3 linked regions of the Homo sapiens genome follow. The protein of the gene in region 2 interacts with the protein of the main gene of each other region in a pairwise test. Each region holds a gene or a part of one and is shown on either strand. Other genes may lie near its edges.

Region 1 (3,752 bases), on a different chromosome or scaffold from region 2:
ATAAATTATTCCAGTTCTACAATTTTATAGACAAGAAGCCAAGGTTCACAGAGGTGAAAGGACCTGCCTGAGGTCCCTTAGTTGTGCAGAACTATGAGAAGGATCTTGAGGTCCCCAGATCTTGAGGTCCCAGGGCCCCTTCCTCTCAAGGTCACAAGATCCCACATTCCAGGCAGTGTTGTCCCTATTCATACACAACACAAGGTAAACTTGTGGGAGGCCAAGGCTGGAAGGACTGCTTGAGGCAAGGAGTTTGAAACCAGCCTGAGCAACATAGTGAGACTTCATCTCTACTATGTTGTAGAAAATTAAAAAAAAAAAAAAAATAGCTGGGCATAGTGGGTAAGGCAGGAGGGTTCCTTGAGCCCAGGAGTTCAAAGTTGCGGTGAGCTGTGATTGCACCACTGCACTCCAACCTGGGTGACGGGGCAAGAGTCTGTCAAAAACAAAAACAAAAAAGAAAGAAAAAAGAAAAAAGCCAAGGTAAATCGTACGTCTTAGACATGTGCAAAATGGCAGTGATGTTTTCATTTCACCTCTGTACACTAAAATACAAACAGACAATGAGTACTTTTCTTCTATGCAGTTTGAAAATACATGAACATTTTTATGGGGTTACAAGGAAGTATAATAATTAGCGGTGGAGTTCTAGAAGAATATTTTTAAAATGTGTGTCAAGGCATAGTAGGGGTATGAATGTGTCAGAATTAGCTAAGGAAGGTTCTGTGAGAAACTACATTTTCTTTTTCTTTTCTTTTTTTTTTTTTTTTTTCTTGAGACAGGGGCTGGCTCTGTCACCCAGACTGGATTGTAGTGGCGCCATCTTGGCTTACTGTGATCTCCGCCTCCCAGGCTCAAGCAATTCTCCTGCCTCAGCCACCCAAGTGGCTGGAACCACGGGTGCGCACCACCAAACCCAGATATTTTTAAGGAATTTTTTAGTAGAGATAGGGTTTCACCATGTTGCCCAGGCTGGTCTCGAATTCCTGAGCTCAGGCTACTGGCCTTCCTTGGCCTCCCAAAGTTGTGGGATTACAGGCGTGAGCCACAGTGCCCAGCCAGGAGCTACATTTTCTAGATTTTTTGTTCACATCCTCTAACTTGCTTCTCATAAGGGGAAGCCAAAGATTAGAATAAACTTCCAGGCCCTAGAATTAGACCTCTTAAGAAATCATTTATGTCCATTAGATTATTTCTGTTCGGTTTTTATTCTTTCCTATCACCAAGGAGGTTAATGTCTTCAACTGTCTGAGGAACTACACAAAGTTTACACTCAGAAAGCCCCTCCGCATGTCTACCCTGAATCTTTCTCGCTGCAGTTTAAATCACAGATGCTTCTATGATTGCTTTAGTGGATGTGGATTGACCAAGTCATGGGGAATAAACTCCTGCTTTGTTTTCTTTTGAAGAAGGTTCTCCATCTTCAGACTATAGAGCTTCTTCTCAAATACCAGGTACTTTGTACCTTTCCATTGTATCATATACACATGGATGAATTTAGGAAATTGACTTCTAAAAAGTGAATGAAAAAGAGGAGTAACATAGATGTTCTGAAACAGAAGTGACAGGAGGAGAAAATAGAAAGTTATTTACTATTTTCAAAGCAACTAAGTAGAAAGGTTGATGAAAGAGAGAAAAAAAAGCTGTCACTGAATGATATTTCCATTGGAGGGGAAAATAGGTACCAACAAATGAAAATTGCCTCATCTTTACAAGTTTCACTGAGCATGAAAATGTCCCTTTAAAATTTCCCATAAGCCATGGCTGGCTATGGGATTTTTCCAGTGCAAAGGGAATCTGAGTTCAGGAGGCCAGGGAATGCCAGGGGGAAAGGGATTTTCTGATACTCAGAAGACTCAGAGACTGTCAGTTTAAAAAATGAAAGTAATATAGAAGGGGCAAAGTGGCATTTATCATTCTATCTCTCCAGGCTCCTGTCTCTTTAATCAGCTAGCCTGATTTGCCCAGTAAATGATTCCTGAGAGTGTGTGTGCGTGTGTGTGTGTGTGTGTGCCCGCGCGCGTGTGTTGTAGCTCTGTCAATCCTTGGATTAGAACCAATGATTGCAGCTTGTAGGAGGGCTGTCCAGGGCCAGATTGTACAATGTGTCTCAGTGCCAGAGTATGAGTGGAGATAATTACGGAGAAGTCATACTCTCTCACACCCTCGGCTTTCTTGTTGTGTCCTTCAGCAAAACAGTGGATTTAAATCTCCTTGCACAAGCTTGAGAGCAACACAATCTATCAGGAAAGAAAGAAAGAAAAAAACCGAACCTGACAAAAAAGAAGAAAAAGAAGAAGAAAAAAAATCATGAAAACCATCCAGCCAAAAATGCACAATTCTATCTCTTGGGCAATCTTCACGGGGCTGGCTGCTCTGTGTCTCTTCCAAGGTAAGAGCTTGCTATTGATTTGCCTTCGGTAGACCCAGGAATTGTACAGTGTGCTTTATAAGATTTGCAGACTCCCCGAGTCGGCTGTGCTGCGCTGTTTGCAGGTGGAGGAGAGAGCGTTTAGACAGCATGGCTGGGACTTCATTCTCCCGACTAGGCTGTGAGAATATTGATTTGATTCTGGCTGCTACCGGAATGGGGGAATATGTATGTGCATAAGTAAAATGTGTTTGGTGCTCCTGTTAGGACTGTGCTTGTGTGCAAGGCTCCCTGGCTTCATGCACATTCTTGCACACATACACAACGGAGCACACATGTAAGCAGGGGGAAATGACAGATTCGGAGGGCAACAGGGTTGCTAATGTGTTGCTTATGCGACTGGGAAGAAATTACAAGAGGAAACTTTAAATATCGGCCAGCGAACTTGCAAAGCTTTTAAAAGGAGCAAAGGGGAAAATGCAGGCTAGAAAGAATCAGGTGCTTCCTGTGAGGTTCTGGTCAGCGATCCAGCTGCAAGGGATGAGTCAATTTGCAGCAGTGGGGGACAACTGTATTAGTTTTAAATGTGTTCGGGGGTGTGTTTGTGGCTGGGGTCGGAGGTGTGGAAGCGAGGGGAGCCGGGGCTCTGAAATTCTAAAAAGCTTTTCGAAGTTGAAGGGAGAGAGGCAATAAGAGTCGAATGCTAATTTTCTGTTTATTTATCGGCTGAGCCGGGAGCCCTGGGGGCTGCAGTTGAGTGCAAGCTTTGATGTCCCCAGTGCTGTGTTCTGTGCATTTGGAATCGGCCTCCACCTTGAGTCCATTTGCTGCACCGTGCCTCCCCACACCCCATCCCGGCTCTCACGTCTGTTCGTTCCAGCAACAGAATTATCCACTAATCTTCTTGCTCCCACCTGCCCTGTCCTTTGGGGTAACTAGTTTGCCTCTTTTATATTAAACACAGCTAAAACTCGTAAGGATCGAGACAAGCTGAGAAACTTTCCCAGGGTGGCCCAGCAGGGCTCCGGGAGGAGGAGCCCTCTCTTGGGAGGTGAGGCTCAGTCCTATGCAGTTGTATTCCCAGAGGAAAGTTCCCTCTGACCCGGTGAAAAACGATGGGGAGTCCCACCCCCTCGCCCTCTTCTCCCCCTGCAATATGGAGTTCTCCTGATCTGGACTGAGTCCTGAGCTGTAGTCCTGCTGGCTCTTCTCCGAGGTTAGGATTTAGGGATTGCTGCTGTCCTCTTGACATAGGTTGCAGTGGCTGCAGTGTGGATCCACGTAAGGTGGGCAGAGAGACCAGGCTGGAAGGATCAAATGTGTACACCCTTGACTGGGGCTCGATGAAGAAGGCAAGGGGTGGGGACAGGAGGGATCTGTG
Region 2 (3,752 bases):
AGGGGTCTTGAATTTAAAGTCTTACAATTCACCAAAGCTAATGGATATGTGACACTGGGCTCAGACATCATAAATCTGGTGTTTTCAGGTAATGCAGATACTGGCCCCCTGGAAACACAAGACTGGAGCTCAAGCGAGAAAGTACAATTGGAACTAAAATTTGGGAGTCATTGCCAGATGAATGATTGTTGGGTTCTCTGAAAGAGAAAGAGTTCAAGGGCAGAACCTTAGGGCAGTGTCTGAACAGGGGACAAGAAGAAAAGAAAGTCCAGGGCTGGGTGCGGCAACTCATTCCTGTAATCCCAGCACTTTGGGAGGTCAAGGCGGGAGGATCTCTTGAGCCCAGGAGTTTGAGACCAGCCTGGGCAACATAGAAAGACCTCATATCTCCAAAGATTTTTTTTTTTAAGTTACTCAGGTGTGGTGGTGTGCTCCTCTGATCAGAGCTACTCAGGAGGCTAAGGTGGGAGGGTCCCTTGAGCCCAGGAGATTGAAGCAGCTACAGTGAGCCATGATCATGCCACTGCACTCCAGCCTGGGTGACAGAGCAATACCCTGTCTCAAACACAAAACAAACAAAAAAGAAAACAGAGTTCAGGGAGGGAGAAGGGGGCACATGCAAGCAGGCAGCCATGTGCAGAGCTGGGCATCCAGAAGCGGGGGCCCTCCACCTCCTGGGCGAACTCGAAAACCACCACCACAGAACATAAGCTATTGTACTTAGAATTATTCAAAGGCCAGTTGTTATTCTGGAGTTTGCTGGATTAATTTATTTTTTAAAATTTTGCAGATGGACCTTTTTCATCTCTTTGATGACTTCACACGCTATAATTAAACACATTTTGGTTGTGAGCACATTATCAAAGATATTAGAAGCAAAGAAGGGAGGAGAATGAGAATTTTGCAAACTGTTGAAGATAAAAGTTGAGGGCCTTTATTTAGGATGCAGTAATTACCAGTGTTTGAATTTTGGAGGGAGGTATAGAGGTAGAGCAGTTGCTCATAGCTGAATGAGATCTACAGGTATGAACCATAACACAAAGCCATTAATCTTTTAAAAAAAAATGTGTTTTAACTAACGTTGGAACTCTTTCTGATACTCATCTCTCCATGTCCTTGATCTTAACATAAAGTGCAGATGTGACACATTTGTTGGCTGATATATTATAGCTGATATAGAATTGATTGAGAATTACAGAGATCCTCAATTCTCATGGAAAACTGTGAAAGATAGACTCCTGCAACACACTAAGATGGTGCTTCTCAAAGTGTATCCCCAAACAAGCAGCATCCACATCACCTGAGAACTTATCAAAGCAAATTCTCAGGCCCCAACCCAAACCTAGTGAATCACAAACTCTGCAAACAGTGTTTTCAACAGCCCTCCAGGCCATTGTAATGTATGGGAAAGTTTGAAAAGCTGCCCTCGGAGGCCTGGAAGGTATACTGAATTTATGTCACTTCAAGCAGTTTGCTTGTTTTAAGATATCTCTGCTGAAAGTGTCCTGAAGAGGACTGGTTCTTTGAAGGTCTTAGTTATGCTTTTTCTGTGAGTATTTAGAATTAATTAAACGAAATGGCTGCAGATTTTAGCCCCAAAATGGAAAAGTTAATGAAAGTCACAGTGTTGTCTCTTATAAAAATTTTAAATGGGCTGGGAGCGGTGGCTTACACCTGTAATCCCAGCACTTTGGGAGGCCAAGGCGGGCAGATCACGAGGTCAAGAGATCGAGACCATCCTGGCCAACATGGTGAAACCCAATCTCTACTAAAAATACAAAAATTAGCTGGGTGTGGTGGCACGCCCCTATAGTCCCAGCTACTCTGGAGGCTGCGGCAGGAGAATCGCTTGAACCCCGGAGGCAGAGGTTGCAGTGAGCCGAGATCGTGCCACTGCACTCCAGCCTGGTGACAGAGCAAGACTCTGTCTCAAAAAAAAAAAAAAAAAAAAAAATTAAATGGCATTGGTTTCATTTCAGAACAAAAGTAGAGTATTTCATTATTACTGAAATTATAACTTTGCCACTGTCCTTCATAAAAGAAACTGAATAAAATATGTACCATTGGCCGGGTGCAGTGGCTCATGCCTGTAATCTGAGCACTTTGGGAAGCCAAGGTGGGTGGATCACTTGAAGTCAGGAGTTCAAGACCAGCCTGGCCAACATTGTTAAACCCCATTTCTACAAAAATTACAAAAACTAGCTGGGTATAGTGGCATGCCCCTGTAATCCTAGCTACTTGAAAGGCTGAGGCAGGAGAATTGCCTGAATCCGGGAGGCAGAAGTTGCAGTGAGCCGAGATCGTGCCACTGCACTCCAGCCTGGGTGATAGAGCAAGACTCTGTCTCAAAAACAAACAAACAAACAAATACACGCACACACACACACACACACACACATATATATACTGTAATGCTTAATACCTAATTATATATATTATATATTTATGCACACATATAGTATAAAACATTTTTCTGCATTTCAGGTCCAAACTGCTTTGCAGAAACCGCGGTGATCCCTGCTGGCAGAGAAGTGAAGACTGACGAGTGCACCATATGCCACTGTACTTATGAGGAAGGCACATGGAGAATCGAGCGGCAGGCCATGTGCACGAGACATGAATGCAGGCAAATGTAGACGCTTCCCAGAACACAAACTCTGACTTTTTCTAGAACATTTTACTGATGTGAACATTCTAGATGACTCTGGGAACTATCAGTCAAAGAAGACTTTTGATGAGGAATAATGGAAAATTGTTGGTACTTTTCCTTTTCTTGATAACAGTTACTACAACAGAAGGAAATGGATATATTTCAAAACATCAACAAGAACTTTGGGCATAAAATCCTTCTCTAAATAAATGTGCTATTTTCACAGTAAGTACACAAAAGTACACTATTATATATCAAATGTATTTCTATAATCCCTCCATTAGAGAGCTTATATAAGTGTTTTCTATAGATGCAGATTAAAAATGCTGTGTTGTCAACCGTCCTCACCGTGTACCTGCATATCTTTTTCAGTTCTGATTCCATCACCCAGGAATGTTCCCCCTGCACATTTTCACAGGGCAGAGTCACGCATGAATGGATCATAAGATATTAGGACCAATTTCCACTGAAACCCTGTTTAAATTCTATTTAATTACAGACATATCTCTAATGTTGATGTCTACTTCACATAAATATATTTCCTTTTTATAATAATATATGGCTTTTATCTGCTTCATTCTCAGTCACTTGTGAAATGCAGGTGTAAAGATCACTAACTCACACTTTCTCAGTTCTTTCCCCTAAGCTCCTGTATTGTACACCATAGGTAAGCACATACATATATTTCATTCTTATTTACATTATTTTCTCTTCTAAGGATAACTTTAATTCATTCCCTAAACTGAGGAATAAAGTAGGCTGGAAAATTTGCATTACTGTTCCATCAAGCTGAAGCAGACAACAAAATAGGGGAGGAGTCCTTCGATTCTCCTAGGATAGTTAAGGAAAATCAAACTCCTAAACAAGTTTATATACCTGAAATCTAAATGTGCTACAGATAACTCAGCTGTCAGTTCAGTGGAATCATATTTGTCATCAGACTTGAGTCATCTATCCTCCATAAACTACACAGTAAAATCTTGACTGATAACCTTGAATTAGCCACCCTTCACAAGCAGAGTGAGGAAGCAGTTATTTTGTTAAAACAAAGCTGAAGACCAAGTGCACTCCACAACTTTCCTATAGTTATAATTCCAAACCA
Region 3 (3,752 bases), on a different chromosome or scaffold from region 2:
CACGGCAGGAAGATGTCACTTTAGGAAGAAGCATGAATTATTTTTACCTGAAGTCTCAGTTTCCATTACATTATACCCTCACTACCACTTAACATGTATGGCAGAAGCATATAATTTAATTGACTTTTTGTATATTGCAGTTCAAAGATATATGGGGATGGAAATGCTGTTCCAAGGATTTTGAAGTTTCTCAAATCTATCGATCTTCAAGAGCCACTGCAAAAGAAATTCTGCTTTCCTCCTGTGAAGGAGAATATCTCTCAAGATATTGACCATATTCTTGAAACTCTAAGTGCCTTGGCCGTTGATCTTGGCGGGACGAACCTCCGAGTTGCAATAGTCAGCATGAAGGTAAAATAACTCCTAAACTCCTAACTTTATATCCCATATGAGCGATTGATTTTTTTTTTAAGTATATATAGTTGGAAGGTAAGACTAGAAACATACACAAGAGCTTGTAATCATTTGCTGATAGTATTGACTTGTGGATCCTTTACAATGTTTGTCTCACTATTTTACTGATCATTAACATTTCAAAGAAGTAAATTCTTTGGGAATCCAAGACGGTAGACTTGACAGTGGGAAGACCCCTTTAGGCATCAGATCGGGCTTTTGCCACCCAAAAGACCTGAAATTCTATACTTGGTAACAGCTTGGAGTGTGGAGTATGCTGATTACTATCACTGCCCAGGTGAGGGGTATCAGCAAATGGTGAAGGGAGCTGCCTCTTCTCTAGAATGTGATCAGTTGTGTGGATTTTCCATTTTGCATTTTTACAGTTCTGCTCTTTATTGAGTACAGCATACCTTCAATCTGTTAACCAAACCATCACCCAGTGTTGACAGGTGAGAGAACATTCATAAAAATAACAAACTGTTCATGTTAAAGTGATCTCTAATGACTTAGAATAAACCTACTAGAAAAATCTTGGTTTGAAATAGTGTGAGTGTATAAAGCTTCCAGAGACGATGAGAAATAGCAAAGATTTTAAATGTAAAGTTGTAGGAAATTTATTAATACCATTAGGTCAAATAAGGAAAGCAAAACAAAACATAATTTTCTCAAGAAAAGCCAAGAGGCCTCCCTTATAAATACTCTTTTAAAAACTAATAGAAGGCTGGATGCAGTGGCTTACGCCTGTAATCCCAGCACTTTGGGAAGTCCAGGTGGGCAGATCACTTAAGGTCAGGAGTTTCAGACCAGCTTGGACAACATGGTGAAACCCTGTTTCTACTAAAAATACAAAAAAAAAAAAAAAATTAGCTGGGCATGGTGGCAGGCACCTGTAATCCCAGCTACTTGGGAGGCTGAGGCAGGAGAATCGCTTGAACCCAGGAGGTGGAGATTACAGTGAGCCAAGATCGCACCACTGCACTCCAGCCTGGGCAACAGAGTGAGACTCCATCTCAAAAAACAAAACAAAAACTAATAGAAGAATAGTTTCTTAACAGAAAGATGATTTATTCCATATGAAAGGCCAACATCTTTTTCAATGGTGAAATTCTAGAGGCATTCCCATTGAAATCAAGAAGAAAAGAAAGATGTTTTGTGCAGCATTATCTCACATAATTTTGGAAGTTATGAGGGAATAAAGGAAGGAATAGCAAAAATGGAGATTATTGATAGGGTAAAACAAAAAACATTATTAATAGACAAAAAAATGCTTGGCTCCCACCCTGGACTGGTTAAATTAGAGTCTCTGGGGATGGGGGCCAGGCATCGCTCTTCGTTAAAAGCTGTCCAGGTGATTCTGATGCACAGCGAAGATTGAGAAGCACTACTCTAGATTTTTTATTCTCTTAATTTAAAAAAATTTTTTTTTAGAGACAAGGTCTTCCTATGTTTCCCAGACTGGACTCAAGGTCCTGGGCTTAAATGGTCCTCTGCCTCAGCCTCCCAAGTATAATAGCTAGGACCACAGGCACATGCCACTGTGCCCAGCTCTAGATGTATTTTTGTTTTTTGAGACTGAGTCTTGCTCTGTCGCCCAGGCTGGAGTGCAGTGGCGTGATCTCGGCTCACTGCAACCTCTGCCTCCCGGGCTCAAGTGATTTTTGTGCTTCAGCCTCCTGAGTAGATGGGACTACAGGCTTATGCCAGCATGCCTGGCTAATTTTTGTATTTTTTGTAGAGACAGTGGTTCACCATGTTGCCCAGGCTGGTCTTGAACTCCTGGGCTCAAGGGATCTGCCAGCCTCGACCTCCCAAAGTGCTGGGATTACAGGTGTGAGCGACCGTGCCTGACCTAGATTTATTTTTAATGACAATCCTAGTGACAGCTCTAACCCTATATTTGAGATATAAAAATCCACTAATAACAAAATAATATAAATGGAAAGAGAGATCTTATTCAGAACAACAACAAAAACTCCTAAGAATAACTGAAACCAGGAACGATGTAATCTATATAAAGAAAATTCTAAAACTTTACTGTAAGACATAAAGTCTTGAAAAAAATGCCCTGGATGGAAGTGCTGATTATTTTTAAGATGTCAGTGTTTTCCCAATTTGATTTATAAGATCAACATAATCTAGTAAATATTTCAATGGTATTTGTTTTACATTTAGTAAAATTATTGTAAATCACAGTGGAATTTCTCAAAGTTTAACATTAAAAGTACAAAAGTCAGTTGTGCAAAGAAAAAAGATAAAGACAAGTAATCAGGAGGGACTATCCCTGTTTGGTATTAAAACATATCAAAAAGCACAGTAATGTGTTTTATTTTTTTGAGACAGGGTTTCACTCTGTCGCCCAGACTGGAGTGCAGTGGTATGATCTCGGCTTACTGCAACCTCTGCTTCCTGGGTTCAAGCGATTCTCCAGCCTCAGCCTCTCAAGTAGCTGAGACTACAGGCGTGTGCCACCACGCCCAGCTAATTTTTGTATTTTTTATAGAGATGGGATTTCCTCTTATTGCGCAGGCTGGTCTTGAACTCCTGAGGTCAAAGTGATCTACCTGCCTCGGCCTCTCAAAGTGCTGGGATTACAGGCGTGAGCCACCACGGCCGGCCATATAATAATTTAAACAATGTGGTATTTCTGCCAGCCAGGATGGAAATTTACCCTAAGGAAATAGAGTATCCAGACCATCACTGAATTCAGTTACAGGAGATGATTAAAGCTCAGCTACTTAGTTGCCTCAGTGTTTTTTTGTTTTTGTTTTTGAGAAAGGGTCTCACTCTGTTGCCCAGGCTGGAGTGCAGTGGCGTGATCTCAGCTCACCGCAGCCTGAACTTCCCAGGCTCAAGAAATCCTCCCAGCTTAGCCTCCCAAGTAGTTGGGACTACAGGCATGTGCCAACATGCCTGGCTAATTTTTTGTAGAGAGGAGGTCTCACTGTACCTCCCAGGCTGGTTTTAAACTCCTGGGCCCAAGCGATTCTCCCGCCTTGGCCTCCCAAAGTGCCGGGATTACAGGCGTGAGCCACTATGCCCGGTCACCTCAGTAAGCAAGAAAGTTTTGTCAACCTGAAAGAGTAAACTATGGTCTTTTAATGAACTAGGCTCAAATTAGCGAACATTGAACTTAAGCTTAAGAAAGGGGCCCGGCCGGGGGCAGTGGCTCACGCCTGTAATCCCAGCACTTTGGGAGGCCGAGGCAGGCGGATTGCTTGAGGTCAGGAGTTTGAGACCAGCCTGGGCAGCATGGTGAAACCCCATCTCTACTAAAAATACAAAAATTAGCCGGGCGTGGTGGCAGGCACCTGTAATCCCAGCTACCTGGGAAGCTGAGGAAGGAGAATCGCCTGAAC

What was found.
Region 1: the proteins of VWC2 (region 2) and NTM interact in binary tests that used the Homo sapiens proteins (3 or more experiments, as listed by UniProt).
Region 3: the proteins of VWC2 (region 2) and GNE interact in binary tests that used the Homo sapiens proteins (3 or more experiments, as listed by UniProt).

Annotation. Positions count from the first base shown.
Region 1 is NC_000011.10:131,368,497-131,372,248, forward strand, and holds the start of NTM (neurotrimin isoform 9 precursor), read left to right. Parts: upstream 1-2,118; 5' UTR 2,119-2,310; coding exon 2,311-2,392; intron 2,393-3,752.
Region 2 is NC_000007.14:49,909,550-49,913,301, forward strand, and holds part of VWC2 (brorin precursor), read left to right. Parts: intron 1-2,484; coding exon 2,485-2,636; 3' UTR 2,637-3,752. UniProt on the Homo sapiens protein: BMP antagonist which may play a role in neural development. Promotes cell adhesion.
Region 3 is NC_000009.12:36,223,847-36,227,598, reverse strand, and holds part of GNE (bifunctional UDP-N-acetylglucosamine 2-epimerase/N-acetylmannosamine kinase), read left to right. Parts: intron 1-140; coding exon 141-351; intron 352-3,752. UniProt on the Homo sapiens protein: Bifunctional enzyme that possesses both UDP-N-acetylglucosamine 2-epimerase and N-acetylmannosamine kinase activities, and serves as the initiator of the biosynthetic pathway leading to the production of N-acetylneuraminic acid (NeuAc), a critical precursor in the synthesis of sialic acids.